Regions from separate parts of the Homo sapiens genome. Here region 2 is linked to region 1. The links come from fine-mapping of genetic effects on gene expression. Tissue or cell type: whole blood. Region 1 holds a variant in brackets; the other region holds the start of a gene. All regions are shown on one strand. Distances are from middle to middle.

What was found. PIP is the estimated chance that this variant, and not a neighbour inherited with it, causes the effect.
Region 2: DGAT1 starts here. The variant in region 1 is fine-mapped to the expression of DGAT1 in whole blood (TOPMed, PIP above 0.99).

Annotation. Positions count from the first base shown.
Region 1 is chr8:144,270,994-144,282,516 of GRCh38, reverse strand. BOP1 (BOP1 ribosomal biogenesis factor) reads left to right here. Exons shown (of 16, transcript NM_015201.5): 3 at 6,213-6,293. Among named protein-coding and RNA genes, the nearest start is that of SCX, 10 kb to the right of the region's middle. RefSeq lists silencers at 4,660-4,709, 7,643-7,772, 11,411-11,523 and enhancers at 7,008-7,650, 10,229-10,872, 10,873-11,516. The variant C/T (reference allele first, on the strand shown) is at 4,495.
Region 2 is chr8:144,323,032-144,334,554 of GRCh38, reverse strand. It overlaps DGAT1 (diacylglycerol O-acyltransferase 1), which reads left to right and starts at 7,703. Exons shown (of 17, transcript NM_012079.6): 1 at 7,703-8,118. The coding sequence starts at 7,919. SCRT1 (scratch family transcriptional repressor 1) reads left to right here. Exons shown (of 2, transcript NM_031309.6): 2 at 439-3,990. The coding sequence ends at 1,370. RefSeq lists enhancers at 562-1,269, 1,270-1,978, 2,193-2,242, 1,979-2,687, 10,568-10,627 and silencers at 2,403-2,692, 7,277-7,996, 8,007-8,076.

The DNA of each region.
Region 1 (11,523 bases):
TACAGTGACCCCTCTTTCTGGGTCCACCTGCTCTGGCACGAGCTTGGTGGGCCAGCCTCACCCCAGGGCCCACCCCATCTCCAGCCTCCCTGCCTTGGGCCTGGCAGTCCTGCCTCTTAATTGCGTTCTGTGCCACCTGATGACCCACGAGTTCTGTCTCCTGGCCTGGTTCCTACTCCCTGGGACTTTCTGCAGCCCCTGCCCTTCCAGCTGTTGACTGTGTCTGCGAGCCATCCCACTGGAGGGGCGCCCTGGGCTGTGTGCTCCCTGCCCTGCAGCACCCCTGACACGGGTGCTCCCAGCCCTCCACTGACCAGCCAGGGAGGAAGCTGCCTCCTGCCGGCCTGTGCCTCGCTTCCTGTCCCCTCTCCAGCAGCACACGGCAGCGCGGGCCGCGGGCTCACCGGAGCGAGGACTGGTTGCAGGGCCTTCTCTTTATCGCTGGTGTCTAGTGGATCTGTGGGGTCCGTGCGCTCAGAGCTGTTTTTTCCTTTCTGTGCTCATTTAGATTCATTTTTTTCCCAGCTTTGCTTGGTTTTGTCTTTTCATTTATGTGAGTTTTTCTTTTTATTATTTTGTGCAGAAGTTTCTGTTTTTATCAGTTAATCTGCTTGTCACAGTCAAGAATGTGAGAAAAGACTGGATGCGGTGAGCCAAACCTGTAATCCCAGCACTTTGGGAGGCCAAGGTGGGCGGATCACTTGAGGAGTTCGAGACCAGCCCGGCCAACATGGTGAAACCTCATGTGAATTGCTTGAGCCTGGGAGGCGGAAGTTAGAGTAAGCTGAGATCATGCCACTGCCTCCATCCTGGGTGACAGAGTGAGTGGGACTCTGTCTTGAAAGAAAAAAGCACTAGTAAGAGAAGGCCTAAGACCTAGTATTAAAGTAAGAGAAGGCCTAAGACCTGGTATTAAAGTGAGAGAAGGCCAAAGACCTGGTATGAAAGTGAGGGAAGGCCGAAGACCTGGTATTAAACTGAGGGAAGGCCGAAGACCTGGTATTAAACTGAGGGAAGGCCAAAGACCTGGTATGAAAGTGAGAGAAGGCCGAAGACCTGGTATTAAACTGAGAGAAGGCCAAAGACCTGGTATGAAAGTGAGAGAAGGCCGAAGACCTGGTATTAAACTGAGGGAAGGCCGAAGACCTGGTATTAAACTGAGGGAAGGCCGAAGACCTGGTATTAAACTGAGAGAAGGCCAAAGACCTGGTATGAAAGTGAGGGAAGGCCGAAGACCTGGTATTAAACTGAGGGAAGGCCGAAGACCTGGTATTAAACTGAGGGAAGGCCGAAGACCTGGTATTAAACTGAGAGAAGGCCAAAGACCTGGTATGAAAGTGAGGGAAGGCCGAAGACCTGGTATTAAACTGAGAGAAGGCCTAAGACCTGGTATTAAACTGAGAGAAGGCCGAAGACCTGGTATTAAAGTGAGAGAAGGCCGAAGACCTGGTATGAAAGTGAGAGAAGGCCTAAGACCTGGTATTAAAGTGAGAGAAGGCCGAAGACCTGGTATGAAAGTGAGAGAAGGCCGAAGACCTGGTATTAAAGTGAGAGAAGGCCAAAGACCTGGTATTAAACTGAGAGAAGGCCTAAGACCTGGTATGAAAGTGAGAGAAGGCCGAAGACCTGGTATTAAAGTGATGATTCCAGATTTTTTTTTTTTTCTGAGACAAGAGTCTGTCTGTCACCCGGGCTGGAGTGCAATAGCCTGATCTCAGCTCACTGCAGTCTCCACCCCCCAGATTCAAGCAGTTCTTTCTCCTGCCTCAGCCTCCCGCTGTGATTACAGGTGAGCGCCACCAAGCCCAGCTAATTTTTTGTATTTTTAGTAGAGACAGGGTTTTCCATGTAGGCCAGTCTGGTCTCGAACTCTTAACCTCAACTGATCCGCCTGCCTCGGTCTCCCAAAGTGCTGGGATGACAGGTGTGAGCCACTGGGCCCGGCCTTCCCAGATAATTTAAGGAGAGTTTGGCCTGTGCCGGAGCATAATGCACACTCTTGGGCAGGGGATCCCGCCAGCGTCTCAGCGAAGGCTCTGGGAATGGCAGGTGGCAGGCCGCGTTGCTGCAGCGTGGGAACCCTGGGCTCGGGCCCCCTGTCGCTGTGGTTCTGGGGTCTGGGTGCTGGTGCCGTCTGCTGGAGAGTGGTCTGGAGCTGCAGCTCTGTGGAGTCTGGAAAGGGGCTGCCCAGTGATTCTCACCAGCTGGTCAGTGGTGGAGAAGTTGCCTGGGTGTGGACCACAGAGCTGGGGATGGAACCAGGGGCCAGGGCTGGTGGTAAACTCCGCTCTTGCCTCTGCCTGTGGCCTTGCTTTGGGTTCTTTTGAAGACTGCCAGCTCCAAGCTTCTTGGCCCCCATGGGGGAGTCAGGCAGCTGTTCTGCCACCTGCCCTGACACTTTGCAGCATCAAACAGATATTTTGTAGCATTCTGGATTCGAGGGGTCAGAGTTCAGGCCGAAAGCAGCAGGGTCAGTACACCCTGAGTACAGTGTCATGCTGAGGGGCCGGGGAGCCCCAGAGGGTTCTGGTACATTCCACCTGAGGAAGATCGACACTCAGCTCACATCCTGTGCTCTGGGACTTGGGTGAGGATCTCAGGTGAGCACAGCCGGGCCTCTTGTGTGTCCAGACCGCCCCTGACAGCCATGTTCACGAAGGGTACCCCTGTCCAGCTGTCCCCTCTCCCAGGGCTCAGGGCTGCAAGGACGTGGTCTCCTGTGCCAGGCAGAGCCACACGGCCTTCACGACCTCAGCCCAGAATCCTGTGGTGTCAGTGTGGGCTGCCTCCCTTGGGTGGGTAAAGCAGCCACAAGCCCACCCAGATTTGCGGCGGGGGGGACATAGACTCTGTCTCTTGATGCGATGAAAATCAAAGGTTTGTGGCCGTGTTTTAAAATGGTCACAGTCACCCTTACGCTTGCCAAATAGTCTCTTCCCCCAGCGCTCCCCAGAACCTCATTCCACTGCCAGGGTCTCATCTAAACCAGGCCTGATAGATGGGGGTCCTTGGGCCCCTCTCTGCACAGCTGTCTGCAGTGGGGCACCGAGTCACAGTGCTGTGGAGTGGTCTCTGGTCTGTGGTGGTCCTAAGGTGGCTGAGCACATGGCTGGTGGTGGTCTTGGCCATGGTGGTCTTGGCCCGTGGTGGTCTTGGGGCCTGTGGTGGTCGTGGCCCATGGTGGTTGTGGCCTGTGATCGTCAGGGCCCATGGTGGTATAGGGGACCTGTGGCAGTTGTGGCCTGTGGTGATCGTGGGGCCCATGGTGGTCTTAGGGCCTGTGGCGGTCGTGGCACGCAGTGGTCTTGGGGCCTGTCCTTGAGACCCATGATGGTCTTGAGACCCGTGGTGGTCGTGGCCTGTGGTGGTCTTGAGGCCCATGGGGGTCATGGCCCATGGCGGTCGTGGCCCGTGACGGTCATGGCCCTTGGTGGTCATGGCCCGTGGTGGTCTTGGGGCCTCTGGTGGCAGCACACATGGCCAGTGCCTCATGCAGGGTTGGCCTCCATGCCTGGGAACGACCCTGCCACTCTTGGGCTCCTGCCCCGAGTTACCTTCCTTTTCCCTGAGTAAAAAGGGATGTTTTTCGGCTGTATTTTCTCTGGGCTTTTCAGTTCCTGCTGATGTACTTTCTTTAAAACAAAATGTGGGTTTCCTAGGTACCTGTTGATGAGTCGTTGCTGTCACACGAGCCATCGGCACAGAGCTCTTGGATAGCAGCCTGTCTCTGTGCTGGGCACCCTGCGGCTAGCGTGGGCAGGGCCCTAGGGAGCCTTGGCCGTGCTGAGGTGCTGGGTGTGGGGTCTGTGGTGCAGCGCTGGGTTGTCTTGGTGTCCTTGGCACCCCGACAGCGATGTTCTGGCTCTGGTCTCTGGGCAAGTTAGGACTGCTTCCCTCCTGCTGTCCACGTCTCCAGCAGAACCCTCTTGTGGGCAGCCCTGGGAGCAGAGTTCTCTTCCCACCGAACCGGGACACCGCAGCTCTGTCGCCATCCTCTCCCAGGAGGTGAGGGCAGAGCCCGTGTCTCATGCCTGGTTGGTGGCAGTGGGGCACGGCCTGGCTGGCCTGATGCTGGGGAGGGGAGGCTCTGGTGTGGTCACAATAGGGGGCTCATGCGCTTGGACACCGTTTCTGTCTGGCTGAGCCCACTGTGGGTTTCTCCCTTTGGTCCTCATGGTGACATTCTAGCCCTGGGGCTGGGCAGAGGCCACGCAGGGTTCAGGGACTACAGCAGCCTTTCCTTGGCCCCAGCGGCCCCGCATCCTGCTGGCACCTCGTCCTTGCGCTCCCCCTCGGCGGCTCCCTGCCCACCCGTCGGTCCTTCAGACCCGCCTGCCTCTGCCCAGTGGCGCTCGCCCGCCCACTCTCTCAGCTTTTACTTCACCCTCACGCAACTCTCGTGCTCCATCGGGCCCGACCCCTCCTCAGTCAGGCCACGCACACTGCGGGTGGTGCTGGAGACCCTGGAGAATCCGGGCTGACTCCAGGCATGGG[C/T]GTGGCGGGAGGGGGTCCTGTCCCCAGGAGTCCGGAGCGTGGCGTGGGCTCATGTTCCGTTGTCTGTGTCGTTAGGGTTTTGGTGGCCTTTTCCTCTAATTTTTAAGTTAAAAAAAATACGTTCAATGCCCCACAGCATCTGCCTCCAAAATCTGAAGGGGCCTTCTAGGTCAGGCAGTTCCCAGCAGTGGCCGCCCCTGCCCGCACCGCCCCTGCCCGCACCGCCCCTGCCCTTCGGGCGCTGGGCCTGGCTGAGCGCCGTCGCCCCCTGGTGGACTCTGTGCCCCACAGCTGTCCCACGGGGATGCTGCGCCCCTGGGAACCCAGCACCTTCGAAGGCCACCTCTGCCCCCTGCCCAGAGCCTGCCTGTGCCGTGGCCTGTCCACATCCAGCACAGGGGCCACGGGGCACAGAGCGCTGGGTGACAAGTCTTTTGTCACCTGCCAGGACCCTGGGACTGCGGCCCATGAGCAGCGAGGCTGGGACTCCAGCGTGCGGTGCTTCAGCCCCGGCCACTGTGAGGGGTCGGGAGCCCAGCCCGGTACCCGTCCGCAGAGGCCAGGCGGGGGCAGCCGACCGCAGCCGGGTGTGGAACTGCCCTTGTGCGCGTCTGGGGCTTGGGGCCGGGGTCACGGATCTGCTGCGGCTGTGGGGGCTCATGTGCTCCAGGCAGGGGCAAGAGCTCCGTGTCACTGAGCGCCCCAGGCCACTGTCAGCAGCAGGGGGAGACGTGGAAACTGAATCCTTCCTTGTTCCTGGCCTGGGAAAAAACTTAGTCTCCCATCTCTCTTTATATTGAAGGAAAAAACAGGCAGGGGAGGAGCCCGGGCCGGAGAGAAGAGGGGCTCGGGGTGGGGGCGGGGGCGTGCCCGCCTTCGCTCTGGGGTTCCTGCGCCCGAGCACTTTACTGCCCCCACGGGTGAGAGGTGGGCCTGTTTTCCCCATCAGCCTTGGTTCCGCCAGTAAACCCGATCCGGTTGGAGCCATCCTCACCTCCGCAGTCGAGGGCAGAATCTGTTTTCCAGGTTGGGATGTGAATTCTCAGTGGCGCCCACTCTGTGACCCGGCGGGATGGGGTCAGCCTGGGCTGTGGACGTGGTGGGTGGGAGAACGCTGGGCAGGCCTTCTGAGTGTTCGGGGCCCTCTCTGGGCCCTCTGCTGGCTGGACTGGGCGGGACGTGGCCCCCGGGATGGGTGGACAATGTGTGTCCCCCGCCCCTTCAAGAGCATTGGCCCCAGTGACCCTGCTGCGACGGCTGCGTCTCCTTCTTCCCCCCGACCATGCTGCCCCCGTCCCAGGCGGGGCTCGGCAGGAGCGCCATGTGGGGCCCCTGGGAGGAGTCCTGTGGCTTTGACATGAATGGGGGTACGGGTGGTTGGCGGTGGGTCTTGGTCCTCAGCTGGCGGCTTTGCTCCTGACTGCCCCAGTGGCTTCCGTGTCTAGCCTGACACCCGTGTCAGCCCAGGGACAGAGGCCCCGGGAGGCTGCAGTCCAGCCCTCACAGAGGACAGGGCCGTGGGCAGGACCTGCGGCGCCGGGTGCCAGCCACAGCCCCCAGAGGCCCCCTTAGAGCTGGGTGTTCTCGGCCTTGTGCTGAGGCCTGTGCCAGGCTGGAGCTGCTCAGAGATTTCGGGGTGGTGGGCTTCCTGGGATCCCCCCAAGGTCAAAGGGTACCCTGTATCCCCTGAAGTGACCATTTTCTCTCTCTCTCTGCAGGCCAGCACTCCTTGCCCGAGGACAGAGATGGCGAGCGCCCGGATTGGGGATGAGTATGCGGAGGACAGCTCTGATGAGGAGGTAGGACTGGGGCTGCTTCCCACTGGGCAGGGTGGGGCGGCTTCCATCACAGCCTAGCAGGTGCTGGGGGTTGGGGCTGGGGTTGCCCTGGGGGTGCTGGGACCTGCCGCAGGTGGGCCGCACTGTTGGAGCCGAGGCCCACGTGGGCGTCCTGCTTCCCCATCTGCAAGAGCAATTTCGGGGTCTGGGACACAAGACTGCAATGTATGTGTGTCATCATGGCTTGTGAAGGGGAAGGACCTGGGTGTGGCTCCATGCCCCTGTGTCTGGCCTGTGGACGGGCTCTGGGGGCTCCTGTGGCGTCTGCAGGGTGGCTGTGGGCTCCCTGGGCGTGGCGTGCATGGTCTGGGTGGGGGTCATGGTCGGGGTGGGGGTCACGGGCATGGGTGGTGCCCCTGTCGTGTGTGCTGTGGGGTGGGCCACAGGTTGGCTGGGGGCCAGGCGGGCAGAACAGGGCCAGGGCCACCTCCTAATGTCCTGATGTTCTGGGCAGTGGTGGCCCTTCCCTTCCCCTGGGGTCCCCCTGCCCCCCACCCCTGGTGGTGGCTGATGTGGGCTGGGGCCGTTGCCTCTGGACCTCTGACTGAGTCCCAGGAGCACATCTCAGGAGGGGCAGGAGGTCGGCTGTTTCTCATAAGGAGCTTGCAGGCGAAGGGGGATGCGTGCTGCTGGGCTGGGCTCCACCAGCGTGGAGAGGCTGGCACCGGGCTGGGCTCCGCCAGCGTGGAGAGGCTGGCACCGGGCTGGGCTCCGCCAGCGTGGAGAGGCTGGCACCGGGCTGGGTTCCGCCGGCGTGGAGAGGCTGGCACTGGGCTGTGTCCAAGAGCAGATTTGGCTGCGGGGGGCTGCCCTCATTTGGGAGGGGCTGGAAGCTCTGAGAAGCTCTGAAGCCAGAGGCAGTGCCTGCCTATACCCTCCTCAGTGTGGCCTGGCCCCAGGGTAGGACTGTGGTCCCAGTGGAGCACCTGGGTGTGAGGCAGAGTCTCCTTTGGGCCCTGGGGGCTGTGGGGGAAGGAGAAGGCTTTGGTGTAGGGCCTTCCTGAAGGAGCTCTTCCTGCCTGCCTGTCAGGAACTGTCCCCGGGGGGCCTGGGGGAGACACGCGCCCCCCTCCCCCCAGGTTCTTCCCCCATCCTTCGGCTCTCTTGGCTGTGGCTGCAGGAGCCTTGGCCGCCCGCCCGATCCGGTCTCTGCTGCGCGTTCAGAGAACAGAGACAAAACAAAATAAATTGGTTTCCTGGCCGGAGCAGCGGGCTCACTCAGAGCGGGGGGGCCACGCCGCGCACTCCCTGCCTGTCTCCCCTCCCCCTCCCAGGGGCTCTGGCTGTCGGCAGCCACATCCTGTCGGCTACTTTTTTATATTTGGTATTTTGAGAAATCGATGATGATTGTAAACGGAGCGCGGAGGCCGGGGGAGGGGCCTCGGCGGGGCCTGTGGGACCCTGCTGCCCCTGGGGGTGCTTTGCCAGGCCTGTCCAGTGCCACCGCCGCCTGCCGGGTGGGCAGCCCCCTGCTGTGCTGGGAGGAAGCCGGCCAGGGATGTGGGGGCTGCTTCCTCCAGTGATGACTATCCCATATGTTGGTCTGAGTGACAGCGAGGGAGCCCGGGTGCTGCCCGGTGCTCCTGCCAGCACAGCCGGCCAGTGGCTCGAGGGGGCGGCAGAGCTCAGCTTTCAGGAGCCAGGCCAGGCCCGGACAGATGCCTCCCGTCCAGAGAAGTGCGCATCTGCCTGGGCCTCTGTTCCCTTGGAGCAAAGTGGGGTGGCCCTAGGGGAGTGATTTGGGGCCACAGGTGGGCAGGAAAGAGGCTTGGGAGGTGGGAGACAGCCTGCAGCTCTCCCATGAGACAGTGGGGTGAGGAGAGCAGGGCCCGTCAGGCAGCCCCGTGTCCTTGGAGGTGGCCGTGGCACCAGGACCATGGTCCTCCTCGGCACTGGGCAGAGCTGGCTGAGAGAGGGCCGACCTCACTGCCGGGGCCCTTCAGGGCTGTGGAGAGGGCCCCTGGTAGCAGGGCAGGGAGGGCGCCGCTGGGGCGTGTGCTCCTGCGAGCGGCGATCTCAGCTGGAGCGCGTGGGTGGCAGTGGCTGTGATGCTGAGAAGGTCTCGGGCCAAGCTCCTGCTGGTGGGAGGTGCCTCCCTGCCACCCCCTGCCCACCTACCTCCCCTTCTCCTCAGGCCACTTCCCTGCCCTTCCTGGGTCTGGATCCAGGGCCTGGACCTGGATGACACTGGGGCTTCAGGGACCCCCTGCTGGACGCTGACTTTTGAAGACCTGAGCAGCCCCTCACAGGAGAGCTGTACTCCAGCTCTTGGTGTCTTATTCCCCTCCCCCAGGTGCGCAGGCAGCAGCGAGCAGGCGGAGGGAGGCGGGCGGAGCCCCTGGAGGAGGCGCTGGGCCTGGCTGGGGTCCTGCCGCCGGCAGTGGGGGGCCCCCAGGAGCCGGCTGAGCTGCGGCTGCCCCGCCCCCGCATGGCCACCTCACCCCTCTCCCACCGCGCCTGGAGCTTCACAGACGTGATCTCATCCAGCCGCTGGGACCCCCGGGGAGGTGGGCCGGGGTGGAGGGGCGGGGCAAGGGGGCTCTCGGCCTTTGCCGAAGCAGCCCCTCCGCTTTGATTTGAGCGGTTGGGAGAAACTGAGGCCGGGTGGCTGCTCAGGCAGAGGATGCAGCCACCCACCCTCCCCCTGCCTGTGGCCGTGTTTGTCAGGAAAGCGTAGCAGGCTGAGGGATCTGGGTGGCCGTCCACTCTGGCCGGAGGAGCCGCCCTCTGCTGTCCCTTTCCTGTGCCCCGTGGTGCTGGCCTGGGGCCGTCCCCCACGAGGCCTCCACTGGAGTCTGGAGTCTGGGGCTGGGGTGCAGCCTGGCAGCTCCTCGGTGCCCCTGACCCTGCCTGGGCTGTGAGTCAGGTTCCCGCAGGGATGCAGCCGGGCCTGTCTGCGTCCAGAGCCCGTGGTCCCCTCTGCTCTCGCGCCAAGCGCCGTTAATGGCTTCTCCCAGCTACTGAACCGGCAGCTGCCTCCAGTGCTGGCGGCCTCCGCTCCTCCGGGCCGCCCCCGCCCCCGCGTCCTGGCCCCGCGCACTCAGGCTTGCGTCGCTGCTGGCGGCGCGGCCTCGGCTCAGGTTTCCCGGCGAGCGAACGGCCCTCCCCACGCTGCTTGTGGAGGGCGCCCGGGCCTGCAGACCGCCCCAATCTCCCTGGCGGCCATCCACCCCCGCGGCCGCCTGCATGCCTGCCTCCGAGGGGGCTGCTGACTGGGCTGGGGCTGGCCCTCGGGTCTGGTCCCTTTCCACTGAGGAGGGAAACGGGCGCGCCCTGCTACCCAGGCTGTGGGTGGGTGTGTGTAGCCTGACTGCCGCGTGCCCCTTGGCCGGCTTGAAGGCCCTCCTAGGCCTGGCCTGCTGCACTCAGTTGTCCGGTTTGGGAGAGGAGAGACCCTGGGGTCAGTGATGAGGGGCAGGGAAGCCAGGGCCCTCATGGGGGTACCCTGGGCTCTCGGATGAAGCAGGGCTGGGCAGTGGCTGGTAGGTGGGAGTGGCCTCTTCAGAGCCGCGTCCTCCTGCTTGTGGGCTGCAAGGGTGGTGGGGGCCCTGGCCTGCTGTGCCCACTCGGGGCCAGTGTCCTTGGCAGCTGGAACCCGGGTGGGCAGCGGGGGGTGCTCTACAGGGCTCTTGAGCGGAGGCTTTGCCCTGGGGCTGGCAGAGCAGCCTGTGGAGTGGAGCCGGGGAAGGCATTGGAGGGCAAGGTCTGTTGGGCAGGTGGTGACGGCTGCAGGCTCTGGGCCCTCTGGGGAGGCCGGCTGGGGAGAGCTGGGTCTGGGTGTACGTCCCAAGGCCGGGGCTGTTCTGCAGGGGACGGGAGTCCCAGGTACGTGTGTGTGCACGGATCAGGACTGGGGGAAAAGTCTCCAGAATGAGATTTTGGAGGTGTCCGGAGTTGGGGGCTGAGCGGGTGTGGACCTCTAGAGCCCTGTCCCCACCCCACCTGGAAGTTGTAGCTCTGAGTTGTGGGGCTCAGAGCAGGCCGAGGAGGGGTGAGCACTGGTGGGTGTCGGTGGGGGGTGTTTGGGGTGTCATGCCCCAAGCCTGTGCCCCACCCCTAGCATCCTGGTTTCTGGGAGCCCCTGCTTATGAGATGCCAGGCGTTGGGGTGCTCTGCCTGGGAACAGCTATTGTCCCTGGGTCAGCCCCAGCAGAGACCGAGGCAGGCCAGGTCTGGAGGAACCCCTGGGTCGGTAGTGGCTTCTCTCCAGCCTGCAGACCCCCAGGAGGTGACTTGCTGCCCTCCCAGCTGTGGAGGTGCAAGGACCCCTGGGTCAGTAGTGGCTTCTCTCCAGTGGTGGAGGTGCCGGGAGAAGGCCGAGCTGTGTGCCCAGCCTCTAGAAGGGCAGATGCGTGGTTGGCGGGAGCCGGGCCGGAGCTGAGGGCGTCTGGGCTGGTGGCTCCTCCTGCCTGGGGCCCCACCTTGGGCTGGGGGTTCGCTCAGCTGGTTTGGACTTTGAGGAGGAGGAGACTAAGCAGGACCTGGCTTTCTCCCCTCTGGCCCCGGCGCCAGGGCCCAGCACCCCTGCTGGAACCTTCAGTAGGGTGAGATGCAGCAGGTGAGCCTCCCGCCCTGGCCTTGCCCTGAGCACTTCAACAGATAAAACCCTGAGGAAGAGGAGGCGGCCTCACGTCGCACAGGAAGGCCGTGTGGCGCTCCGAGACAGGCGGGCGTTTTGTGCAGGGGAGCGGCGCGAACGCTGAACACTACCCGCATTGTAATCGGAGAGGGGCTGGGGAAGAGAGAGACGGAGCGAGGGCGGCTGACCCCACGCTCCCGGGGGACAGGTGGGAGAGGCGGAACGAGGAGAGAGTGAAGGATTCCAGAGGTGGGCCGGCTTCCTCTCTCGCAGACAGACACGGGAGGAGGCGGGCAGCGGGCCAGCCCCATACCTGCAGTTCCAATCTGTGGTCCTGACAGCTGCAGCCACTTTGGGGAGGGGGAGGGAAGGGGGCTCATCGAGAGCGGAAAAATCCCAGCCGACACATCAGCCGGTTGCGGCCTGTGTCCGGTGCAGTCTGGGCTGGGGGCCTGTCCTTGGGGCTGGGCGGCCCCCAGGAGAGCCCTGATGCTGGGTCTGTGTGTGCCCCCGGCCGGCCGGCCGGGGCTCTCCGTGCGGGGCCTGACCCGGAGGGGTCACATGTGTTTCCTGGCAGCCCGCAGGTGCTGCGCTGGGCGGGGCGGGTGGTGG
Region 2 (11,523 bases), 52 kb before region 1:
GCCGCGGGTCTGCAGTGTGTTGCATAATCAGGGAAAACTGCTGAAGTGGGGAGAACCCGAGGGGGAGGGGAGGGTGGGTGGGGGAGGAGGGAGAGGGAAGCGCCGCCCCTCCCCCCTGACCTTGAGGCTCCGCGGAAGGGGGGCAGCCGCGCCCGAAGACGCGCCTCTCTCCTCCTCTCTGCGAGGGTGGGGCGGCGGGGGCGGAGCGTGGCCCGGCCCTGTCTCATCCTCTCCTCCCCTCTCTTCCCCTCCCTGCTGTCTCCATCCTCCCTGCCCGGCGGTCCCTCGGCCTCCTCTCCTTTGTCCTCCTCCCTGTTCGCCTCTCTCCCGGACCCGGGTCTCCCGGTCCGCGTCTGCTGTCTCCCGCCCCCCCATCCCCCGTGTGTGTCCTGCCGCCGCCCCATTCCCTTCCCGCTGTCCGTCCGCCTCCGCCCGCAGGGTACCTCAGCGACTACGTGGGGCCCTCGTCCGTCTACGATGGCGACGCCGAGGCTGCGCTGCTCAAAGGGCCGTCGCCGGAGCCCATGTACGCAGCAGCTGTGCGTGGAGAGCTGGGTCCGGCGGCTGCAGGGTCTGCGCCGCCGCCCACCCCGCGCCCGGAGCTGGCCACCGCTGCGGGCGGCTACATCAACGGCGACGCGGCCGTCAGCGAGGGCTACGCGGCGGACGCCTTCTTCATCACCGACGGGCGCTCGCGGCGTAAGGCTTCCAATGCCGGCGCTGCCGCCGCTCCCTCCACAGCCTCGGCGGCGGCCCCCGACGGCGACGCCGGAGGCGGGGGCGGGGCGGGCGGGCGCAGCTTGGGATCCGGGCCGGGGGGCCGGGGCGGCACGCGCGCGGGGGCAGGCACCGAGGCGCGCGCGGGGCCAGGGGCCGCAGGTGCTGGCGGCCGGCACGCGTGCGGCGAGTGCGGCAAAACATACGCCACGTCGTCGAACCTGAGCCGCCACAAGCAGACGCACCGCAGCCTGGACAGCCAGCTGGCGCGGCGCTGCCCGACGTGCGGCAAGGTGTACGTGTCCATGCCGGCCATGGCCATGCACCTGCTCACGCACGACCTGCGCCACAAGTGCGGCGTGTGCGGCAAAGCCTTCTCGCGGCCCTGGCTGCTGCAGGGCCACATGCGCTCGCACACCGGCGAGAAACCCTTCGGCTGCGCGCACTGCGGCAAGGCCTTCGCCGACCGCTCCAACCTGCGCGCGCACATGCAGACGCATTCGGCCTTCAAGCACTTCCAGTGCAAGCGCTGCAAGAAGAGCTTCGCGCTCAAGTCCTATCTCAACAAGCACTACGAGTCGGCCTGCTTCAAGGGCGGCGCCGGAGGCCCCGCGGCTCCTGCGCCGCCACAGCTCAGCCCTGTGCAGGCCTAGGGCGGCGGGGCCTCCCCCAGCCAGGTCGGCTCTCAGCAATACGGCCCCCCAGGGAAGTCTTCGCTGGCGTCCGGGTGGAGGGGCCGGAGGGCGGGCCCCTCCTCACAGCAATAGGGGGAGGGGGGCCCGGTCCCACCCCGCCCCGCCCGCCAGGGGCCTTGCCGGCCCCTTCAAGCAATAGGGTCCCGAGGGGAGACCCACCCCGAGCCCCCTCCCCTCCCCTCCAGGGTGCCCCCGGCTTTCTCCCAGCAATAGGGTCGACGAGACCTAGAACCGAACCTCATCTCCGAGTTGGGTCTCTGAAGACGGGGGTGAGGTGAGGTAGGGAGCGCCCTCCTTCTCCCGCCTCTGCGCCCCTGGATCGCGTCGCAGGGACTCAGGTCTTCCCCACCCCTTCCCAAGCCTTCTAGCGCAGGGCCTGCGGCCCAGACGTCCAGGGAGCCGGCCCCTCCCCGGCAGCAGGCCGGGGCGGAGCAGGAGCGGGCGGGCCTGCAGGGACGCCCCTGCCTAGCAGCCTTCGCGGAACTCCCGGCAGTGTTAGACGCGTTGTGGGTCGGGGAGAGGGGCGGACGGCGGCACCCCCTCCCTCGGGTTGCTTCTGGGGCCTCAGTCGGAGCCGCCCTCCTACCCTCGCCTCGCATCCTCTGCCAAATCCGAATTCTTCCAGCCCAGCTTCCCGGGCTCTGTCCTCCATATCGAATAATAATGACACATATCGAATCGCATGGACTTATCCGACCTCCTCAGACCCCGCTTCCGCCCTGCCCCGGGCCCCCACCCCCCACCCCCGTACCCCAGGCATTCGTGTTGGAGGACGGATTCCCGGGGCCGGCAGGCAGGCCTGGGCGCTGCCCTCTACACACCTCTGTCTTCGCTTTGCGGGTAAAGCCCCCTGGGGGGGTTGCGGACGCGTCGGGTTTCTTTTTCTGTATTTGTACGTTTTATTTATGAACGGATTGCACTCGGGTCAGGGAGGGGGCGCTGAACCCCCATCTTGCCCGCCGACGCCGGGGGCCTGGGATGTCCGGGATTACTTTCCACGCCCCGAGGCCCGCCCCTAGCTGGGAGCCTCTAGGGAGCCTCAGGCCCCGCCTCTCCGAGGCAGGCCCCTCCCCTGAGACCCAGGCCCCGCCCCTGAGACCCAGGCCCCGCCCCCACTCGGTTGCCAACTTTCGCCCGTCTATGCCAAAGCCTCGGCGGCGACCCCGCCCCAAGGGCCCGCCCCATTGGCCGCCGCCTTTGTGACGTCACTGCATGCAGCCCCACCCCTCCTCCCGATCCTACCCGGGGCTGCCCGCTCCCCCTCCCTCTTAGGTAGTCCGAAGCCGACTATAGAGCAATAATGCGCACTGCATGCGAAGCTGCCGCCGCCTCTAGAGTTACTGAGAATCAGGTATCCCCTCGCCCTACCCACCCCATAGGCCCCTAGATCAGGGACGCTGCGCGGGGCCGGCCGCGCAGACTTTCTCCCCACCCCTCCCCGACCCCCACGGCAGAGCCCGGCGGCTGTAATGGTTCCATGGGCGGGGGTGGGGTGGTTGCCCCCAAGACCCCTCCTTCAGGCATTAATCATTCACTGACCGTTCATTGAGCACCTACTATGTGCCAGGCCAATTGCTGAGTCCGCCAGGAGCGCAGCCACCTGCTGGGAGGTGTGTTTGCAGGACAGGGGTCCAACCGGCTTGGGTGGGCCAGGGAAGAACGGCAGATGCAGAGAGACCAGGTCCCTAGGTTCACATGCCCCCTACACTCCTCCCCACCTCAACCAGTCCCTGCTGGGCACAACTGGGCTCTACCTTTGAGTTAGGCCTTTTGACTCCAGCTGAGGGGGACAGATCCAGGGCTCCTGGGCCCCCACACAGGTGGCCACTTCTCTGATCCTCTGGCCAACACACATCTGCCATGTCCAGCCAGGGGCAGAGCCATGGCTGGAGAAGAAGGTGCCAGCTGTAGCCTATGGTGTGGCCAGCCTCACCCCCAGCAGCAAGCGTGGCTGCCCCCACAAGGATGACCCACCGCTCTGCACAGCAGTGCCCACATCCAAACACCCTACACAACCAGGTGTGGTGCCTGCACAGCTCCCAAGCTGGGGCCTGCCCACCTGTGCCGCATGCACACGCACACACAGGCGCCCCCACCTCACCCCACCCCATACTCCTGTCTACCTACCTAAGGAGAAAGCTGGAGGGCTGTGGGCCCGTCAGGGTCTCCTGCTTCCCCCTACACCCCGCCGCCGTGGAAAGCCATGGGCCCCCTCCCGCCCCCATAACTAAGCAGCACAATAACCGACTTAGCGAATTCAGGTAGAAGGAACGTTTAGGTAGCACCTATTTTGTACTGATTCTACAAGTAGGGCCCGAGGTGCGGGGGCCCTCGGGTGGGGGCTGCGGCCGCCGGCCCGCCCGCCCCCACCCCCGCCTGTGCCCCGCCGCCTTGTACATATTCCCACCCGGAATAGGCCGGGATTTTTACTCGGGCCGTGCCCCTCTTCCGCCCCCATTTGGGGCCAGGCCGGCCGGACAGACGGACGGACGGACAGACCTCCTTCCTAAGCACAATAGCACCAGCTCCCCGGAGCACCGCACCTCCACAAGGAGAATAAATGCCACTCTTGATAGAATTTGGAGTGTCGGGCTGATGTGTCCTGGGCTGGGCCCACGCTGTTGGGTGGCTGGGAGGGTCTTCCCAGTCTGGCAGTACCTCAGAGGCTGGTGCTGCAAGGGTCAGCCTGAGGCCTTTCACAAGACGGCCCTCTTCTTCCACTGGGGAGGGCAGGCTTGGCAGGCCCAACCACAGGAGCATCAGGTCTGAAGGCAAAGTAGTTGGCATTTCCCCTGGGGTAGGTGGATCTGCTCCACACCAGGAACAGGAGCACTAAGGGGTTCCAGTCTAAAGTCAGGCCAAGCCCACGGTTGGACCAGAGTGGGCAGGGTAGGTATAGTAGGAGCTGCTGTTCCCCAGCCTGGGTGCCTTCGCTCTTCTCTCCCTGAAGGAGCTTTATGCTGTGATGGAAGGCCTGATAGCCACCTCAAGCCCTCTGAGATGCTGTTGCAGGAAATGGGGACAGTGGAGAGTTCGAGGTCTGGCCCTTTTCCTGTGGCCTGCTGCCCACATTCTGACCCCCAGGCTTCCCAGATATGCTCCCCCAGTGTCTGCGGATGCCTCCATGGATAGCTGGGTTGGACCGGTTCCAGGGAGGAGGTGCCCAGGGGGCAGAGAGGCTTCTGCAACCATCGCCCAAGGGCTCTAGACAGAATGAGTAGTGGAGGAGATAAGGGACAGGGACCCTTTGCCCAGCAATGTCCCCTGGTAACCAGGTAGGCAGGCATGAGCCGAGAGGCCCAAAGTCTTCGGGCACATACATTCAAACCAGGTCAGTCCTAGATCCAGGGCCAGCAAAGCTGCCCACACCCTAGCAGGGACAGGGGACAGACCTGCCCAGACTCCACTAGGGTGGAGAGCAGGGGAACCAGGTCTGCAGCATGTCATGGCCTGTGTGCCTGGCACTTGGAGGAGCTGTGGTGCAGGTGGGTGCTCTCTTTGGGAGAGCACTACCAGCAATGACAATGGCAGACAGCAATGGCCAGGAGGAAGGCTCCTAGCCTCACTCCTTCCAAAGGACTCCAACAGCGACTGGCTGTTTCTACTTCTCCAGGATTCTGATGCGTAGAGTGGGTGGAAGGATGGAGGTGGCCTCCCTGAGGCCTGGGATGAGCTCGACCCCCCAGTTCCTCCCAGCCACAGACACAAGTTTCCCTCTGAATGAGCAGCACAGGCCATAGACCACCACTGGCTGTGAACTCTCCTGGGACCCTTGCTTCTCACAGGCCTTCTTGGCCCACCCATGGCCCCTAGGCCCTGGGATCAGCCTGAGGCCCCAACCCACTTCCAGCCCTTTATTCCACTAGCCCTGGAAGGCAACTCGCTTCGGGCTTGGGCCCCCTCATTTGTTGCTGCCCCCAGCAGGGTGATCTGCATCATGCTTTCCTCGATGACCCAGCCATACACACCCTTGTCCCCAACCAACCTCACCTACCCTGACCATTCCCCTCACCCTAGATCCCAGGGTATAGGGCCTGTCTGGGCAGGGCTTCACCCACCTCTGGAGCTGCTGCCCCGCCACGCCCCCACCCCCGGTGGCAAAGCCCTTCCTTAATGGCCCGCCCACAGCCAGTGCTTTCCCCATTGGCTCCAAGCCTGGCTCTGCTCACCAGGCCCGACCCATCCTCCCTGGTGGTCCAGTCCACCCTCCCATTGTCTTTCTCCTGTGGCCACTTGCCGGCTTTGAGTTGGGACGCGACCACAGGTTGAGTCGTTGATCTCCTCTGCCTAGCATGAGGTGCTCCGTGGCCAGGTCCAGACCTCTCTGAGCTTGCTGTCAGTCCATACTCAGACAGGTCTGGGCCTACCTGGCCACAGAGTGTGTCTGCCAGCGACTGCATTCAACAAATGAATATTCTGAGAGACTGGGTAGGAGATGGGGCTGGTCCTGACCGACCAAGGCCCATGTGTGAGGGGCTCTTGGGTCCAGTGAGGGCGGCCCCACTCGGCAGGCTACACAAAGGGCATCTGCCAGGTAGCTCCAGCCTGCCTGATACCTGGTTGGCAGCAACCCACAGCGGCCTGTGGTGACAAGAATATGTCACCAGGGGGGCAACCAAGGGGGCAGCCCTGCTGGCCACTGTTGGTGGAGGTGGTGGAAGAGGACGGAGCTCAGAGGCGAGGCTGTGACCAGCCCACGGGAGAGGACCCCACCTCAGGAGGAGCACCTGTTTGCTTCCAGAGAAGTGCTGCTTGCCCCTGCTCACCCCAGAGGAATGAAGGTGTTTCTAGAGTCAGAGTCCTCAGTGAACCCTGGCATCCTGAGATCCAGGATGTTCTCACTCCATGCCCTGTGCAATATGCACACCAAGCCAAGGTGGGCCGCAACTGTGGCTGTTACAGTTGATTAGTTGCTTCATTTAACATACAAGATGTCTGGGGCAGTGGCTCATACCTGTAATCCCAGCACCTTCAGAGGCCGAGGTGGGAGGATTGCGTGAGGCCAGGAGTTCGAGACCAGCCTGGGCAGAATAGCGAGACCCCCATCTTTAGAAAAAATAACAACAGGCCAGGCGCGGTGGCTTGCGCCTATAATCCCAGCACTTTGGGAGGCCGAGGTGGGCGGATCACGAGGTCAGGAGATCGAGACCAGCCTGGCCAATATGGTGAAAGCCCGTCTCTACTAAAAACAGAAAAATTAGCTGGGCGTGGTGGCACGCGCCTGTAGTCCTGGCTACTCGGGAGGCTGAGGCAGGAGAATCGCTTGAACCCAGGAGGTGGAGGTTGCAGTGAGACGAGATCGCGCTACTGCACTCCAGCCTGGCGACAGAGTGAGACTGTCTCAAAAAAAGAAAAAAGAAAACAAAAAACAACAGGGCGGTTGCACAGGCCGTGCAAATGCACAGAAGCCTCTTGAGTCCCGGCGATCCAGCGGCCCAGACTTCTGACATCCTGGAGAGGCTGGCCCACGTTGGAAACTGGGAGGCCCTGAGAGTTGAGGGACGTGGAGCTCCTTGTGGAGAGAGTGGGTGGGCTGAGAAGACACCACCAAGGGGCCTGCGCCCTCGCCCTCGCCCTCGCCCTCCTCTCGCCGGGCTCTGCAGGCGGGGAGGTGGAGAGCCTGGGAGTCGCGTGCAAGGCAGGCGTCCCGGTGACGCAGGGCCTGGTGCATTTCTCCAGCTTGGTCTTCTGACCTGGCCCTTGTCTGACGTCCCCCTAAGGCGAAGAAAAGCAGGTTCCTGCCGGGGTAACCAGAGGGCTCGCGGAGCAGAAGCGCGCCAGGGACGTTACTGTAAGCTGCGTGCGCAGAAACCAACGCGCTGGGTGGCGGGCGACGCGAGCCGCCGCGGACACCGGCCCGGACAGCTGGACCGTGGCGCACTAGGCGCTTCCTAAATGATTGCCCGGAGTGACTCGCCGAGACCCCGTGTGTACACAAGTGGGACGAGGGGCGGGCGCACAGCGGCCAGGAAGTCGGGGCCCAGCGCACCCCTCAGCGGACCATCCCGCTCCGTGGGGCCGGACAGGACCCCGGGACCACGCGGGAGCGATGCAAGGTCCGTTCCCGCTGCGCGCACTTGCGGCCCGCAGCCCCGGCCCTGGGAGCTGCCACGGCTCCCAGGGTGCTCTGCGCCGGTGCGGCCGCGGCGACTACGACTCCCAGGGTGCTCTGCGCCGGCGCGCCCGCGGCGACTACGACTCCCAGGGTGCCCTGCGCCCCGTCAGCCTCTCCAGGCCCCGCCTCAGGTCGGCCGCGGACTACAAATGGACGAGAGAGGCGGCCGTCCATTAGTTAGCGGCTCCGGAGCAACGCAGCCGTTGTCCTTGAGGCCGACGGGCCCGACGCGGGCGGGTTGAACGCGCTGGTGAGGCGGTCACCCGGGCTACGGCGGCCGGCAGGGGGCAGTGGCGGCCGTTGTCTAGGGCCCGGAGGTGGGGCCGCGCGCCTCGGGCGCTACGAACCCGGCGGGCCCACGCTTGGCTGCGGCCGGGTGCGGGCTGAGGCCATGGGCGACCGCGGCAGCTCCCGGCGCCGGAGGACAGGGTCGCGGCCCTCGAGCCACGGCGGCGGCGGGCCTGCGGCGGCGGAAGAGGAGGTGCGGGACGCCGCTGCGGGCCCCGACGTGGGAGCCGCGGGGGACGCGCCAGCCCCGGCCCCCAACAAGGACGGAGACGCCGGCGTGGGCAGCGGCCACTGGGAGCTGAGGTAGCGGAGCGCCTGACCCCCTAACCTCTGACCCAAGGGCCCCGCGACTTTCCGGGGTTGGCCGAAGCGCGAGCTCCGAGTCCGAGAACATGGGCCCTGGGCTAAGCGGGGATCGGTGTGCCCTATGGGCCCTGTGGGGAAACTGAGGCTTGGGGAGAGTCACCTGACAAGGTCACTGGGTAGGGGCTCTGGAGCTGGCCTTGGCCAGGCAGAGGGGAGCCGGCAGGTGTCCCGCATCCAGATCCTCTTGGGTCTGTGCATCCTCAGGGGCTCCTGAGGAGCTTTTCGAGGGGCGGGCTGGTGGGGGCCCGGCCCTGGACAGTGTCCCCTTATATGGAAGGAGTCAGATAAGATCTGGGCAGTTTGTGGTGATAGGTTCCTTCTTGGTGCTATGAGCGGTGCCTTGCGGGTAGGAAAGGCTCCCAGAGGAGGGCTGGCCTGCCAGGGAGGGGGCCAGAGGAGCCCAGGCCTGTCCGAGGACAGGGGAATCAGCAGCTGCCCCGGACAAGGGGCAGTGTTAGAGGCGTTCTTGTCCTTGCAGACCCTTCTGAGAGTGGCTGCGTGGCCCATTCATTGCTCCAGTGGTTAGGCTGGCCTGGAGCCCTGCCGATGTTGCCAGAGCCAGCGTCTGTTGTAGGGACAGAGAGTTGGGTTCTGTGTTGGGACTTCCATCCTCCAGGTGGGGAGTGGGGTATGGGGGTGGTGGACACACCTGCAGGCGTGTGCCCTGCTCAGCTGGATGACTGACAGAGAGGGGTGGAGGGAGAGAACCATGGCCGATGGGAAGGACTTGGCCAGCCTGGGCATTGGCTTCCTCCACCAAGCTGGCCTTGAGCAATCCCCTTGCCACCCTCCATCCCCCCTTTATGGCCTTTACCCTGGCCCAGGGGCCCTCAGGGCTTTGTTTTAGAGAGCAGCTGAGGGCCTAGAGGTTATCAAGGCAGAAGTGGGCTGATTTTGGACATGTAGTTGGCAATGATTTGCTCTCTCAGTGAGCAAGAACAGAGCTTTCCTTCACGGGGCACCATGGGGAGGGGGTTGGGGGAGGGCAGGCACTGTCGTGGCCCTCAGGGTGCTCAGTTCATCTGGGAGATAAGATAACCTCAGCGAGAGTCAGGCATGGAGCAACATGGACAAAGGTCGGGCACGGAGGCCTTGAAGGGGCCGTGGGGAGGAGGGTGGCCCTCCTGAGAGGGGTGCTTGCCTGCTGTGGGCCTGGGGTGCTGGTGAGGGAGGCTGGCCTAGGCACCTCCTACCTGAAAAGGAGGTGTGGCTCCTGGAGTTACCCTCTCTCCAGGAGGCAGGGGGATGGCTACATGACCTGTGGAGGACGTGGGAATTGAGATTTCTTTTTTTTTCTTTTCTTTTTTTTTGAGACTAGTTTTGCTCTTGTTGCCCAGGCTGGAGTAAAATGGCACATTCTTGGCTCACTGCAACCTCTGCCTCCCAGGTTCAAGTGATTCTCCTGCCTCAGCCTCCAGAGTAGCTGGGATTAGAGGCGCCCACCACACCCGGCTAATTTTGTATTTTTAGTAGAGATGGGGTTTCTCCATGTTGGTCAGGCTGGTCTCGAACTCCTGAACTCAGGTGATCCACCTGCCTTGGCCTCCCAAAGTGCTGGGATTACAGGTGTGAGCCACCGCGCCCGGCCGGGAATTGAGATTTTTTTTAGTGTGAGATGAGGGTAGTCCCAGCTTTGGGCCAAGCCGCCACCTGGGGGTAGGCAGGGGAGAGCAGTCACCTTCTTGCTTTGCAAACCAGCAAGGCTTTCCTGTACTTCTGCTGGTGTGGGATGGGTGCAGAGCTCGTGGGAGAGGCCTGGTGAGTCCCTGTCCCTGCCGTGGAGGTCGGGTCTCCTTGGGAAGAGGGGCAGTAGATGGAGAGGTGAGGCCTTCATGGGGCTGGAGGCTGAGACCAAAAGTCTATCTGCTCCTGGGTCTCCAGGACTTGCAGGCTATGTGTGCTTGTCCCTCAGACCTAGGGATGCAGCAGGGCTCGGCCACTGGCTGTGGACACTGGGCTCTTCTCCCTGCTGTCTGCGTCAGGCCTTGCTCTGCCTGCCCTCCTGGGACTTGGCCTCTAGCGCACCCCCTTGTCAGCCTCACAGCCTCCCCTCCCTCCAGCTTCCTGCTGCTCTTGGCCCAGCCCAGCCTTTCCTCTCCCGCTTCCTCATTACTCCTTGAGCTCGGGCCTCCTCCCCTCACGGACACTTCCTGCTCACCTAGGGCTGGGCTCTGGGTGTGAGCTCCTTTCTTCCGGCCCCGTGGCAAGGTGAGGCTGTGAGGCAGGCAGGAGAGGGCACCCCTTTCTGCTCTGCTTGTGGCTCACTCCTGCCAGGCTCTTTGCACACACCCACCAGCCCTCTGCTCACAGGCACCCCAGTCGGGGCCATCCGGTTTCTGGCTTCTCCCAGGGTGTTTTGTCCCTGAGGTGTCCTTTCTGACTCTCCCTTTCTCTCTCCAGCAGGGTCTGCGAGGTGCAGGGAGCCTGCCCCAACCATCTTGAACCCAGGCCCAGCCCAGAGGCCAGAGTGGAGGAGGCGGCAGTGAGCAGAGCTGGACTCTGCCCCCTCCTCATTGTGCTTGGCCCTGGAGCTGCACTGTGTGGGCCCCAAGTGTGGGACTCACTGGGACCTGTGCCTTTGGGCACACTTTGAACCTGGAGACAGGGTGGCGGGTGGGCATGTGCCAAGGTCTCAGTGTTGCCGTGAGACTGAGAGGATCCTGCTGGCTGGGTGGGCCTGGGGGCTGCAGGAGGGAGGGCAGGCTGCTCCGAGTCTTCTTGGACTAGGGAGTGGGTGTAGGGACAGCTGGAAGGTGCAGAGGCTTGGGCAGATCCTCCAGTCAGTGAGAGGGTGATAAAGGTGCTCTAGGCACAGGGGCAGATCCCACCTCCCCATGCCGTTCCATGCAGCCTGCCCTGTAGCCCACATGCTGCTGGCCGCACTGACTGCTTGGAGCTCTGTGGGCACTGGTGGACTGGGGCTTCCTCCTCATGGGGGCCTGTGAGGGGTAGGGGTAGCGCAGTGGGGGTGCTGCCTCTGGGTGGGGCTGGTCAGGCCTGTGAAGGGCCTGAGGTGAGGCTGTGGCTGGGTTGAGGAAGGCCTTGGAAGCCTGTCAAGGGGCCCCTGAGAAAGCTTGTGTAGGATTGTCTGCAGTGAGCTTTGGGAAGCACCACCCTTTCCCGACTCCTGTTTTCATCTTGGAGATGGGCATGGATAAAGCCAGCATGGTGTCCTTGGTGGCTCAAAGGGGGCAGGGGTCATACTGCTGTGAAACAGCTGTGGTTGGTAGGTCGTGGTACAAGAAGGCCAACCCTGAGGCTTGGGATTGTTCTGCTGAAAACAAATGGGCTCGAACTTGGGGAAGAGGGGGCAGTGGAGAGGCCCCCAGACAGACAGCCCAG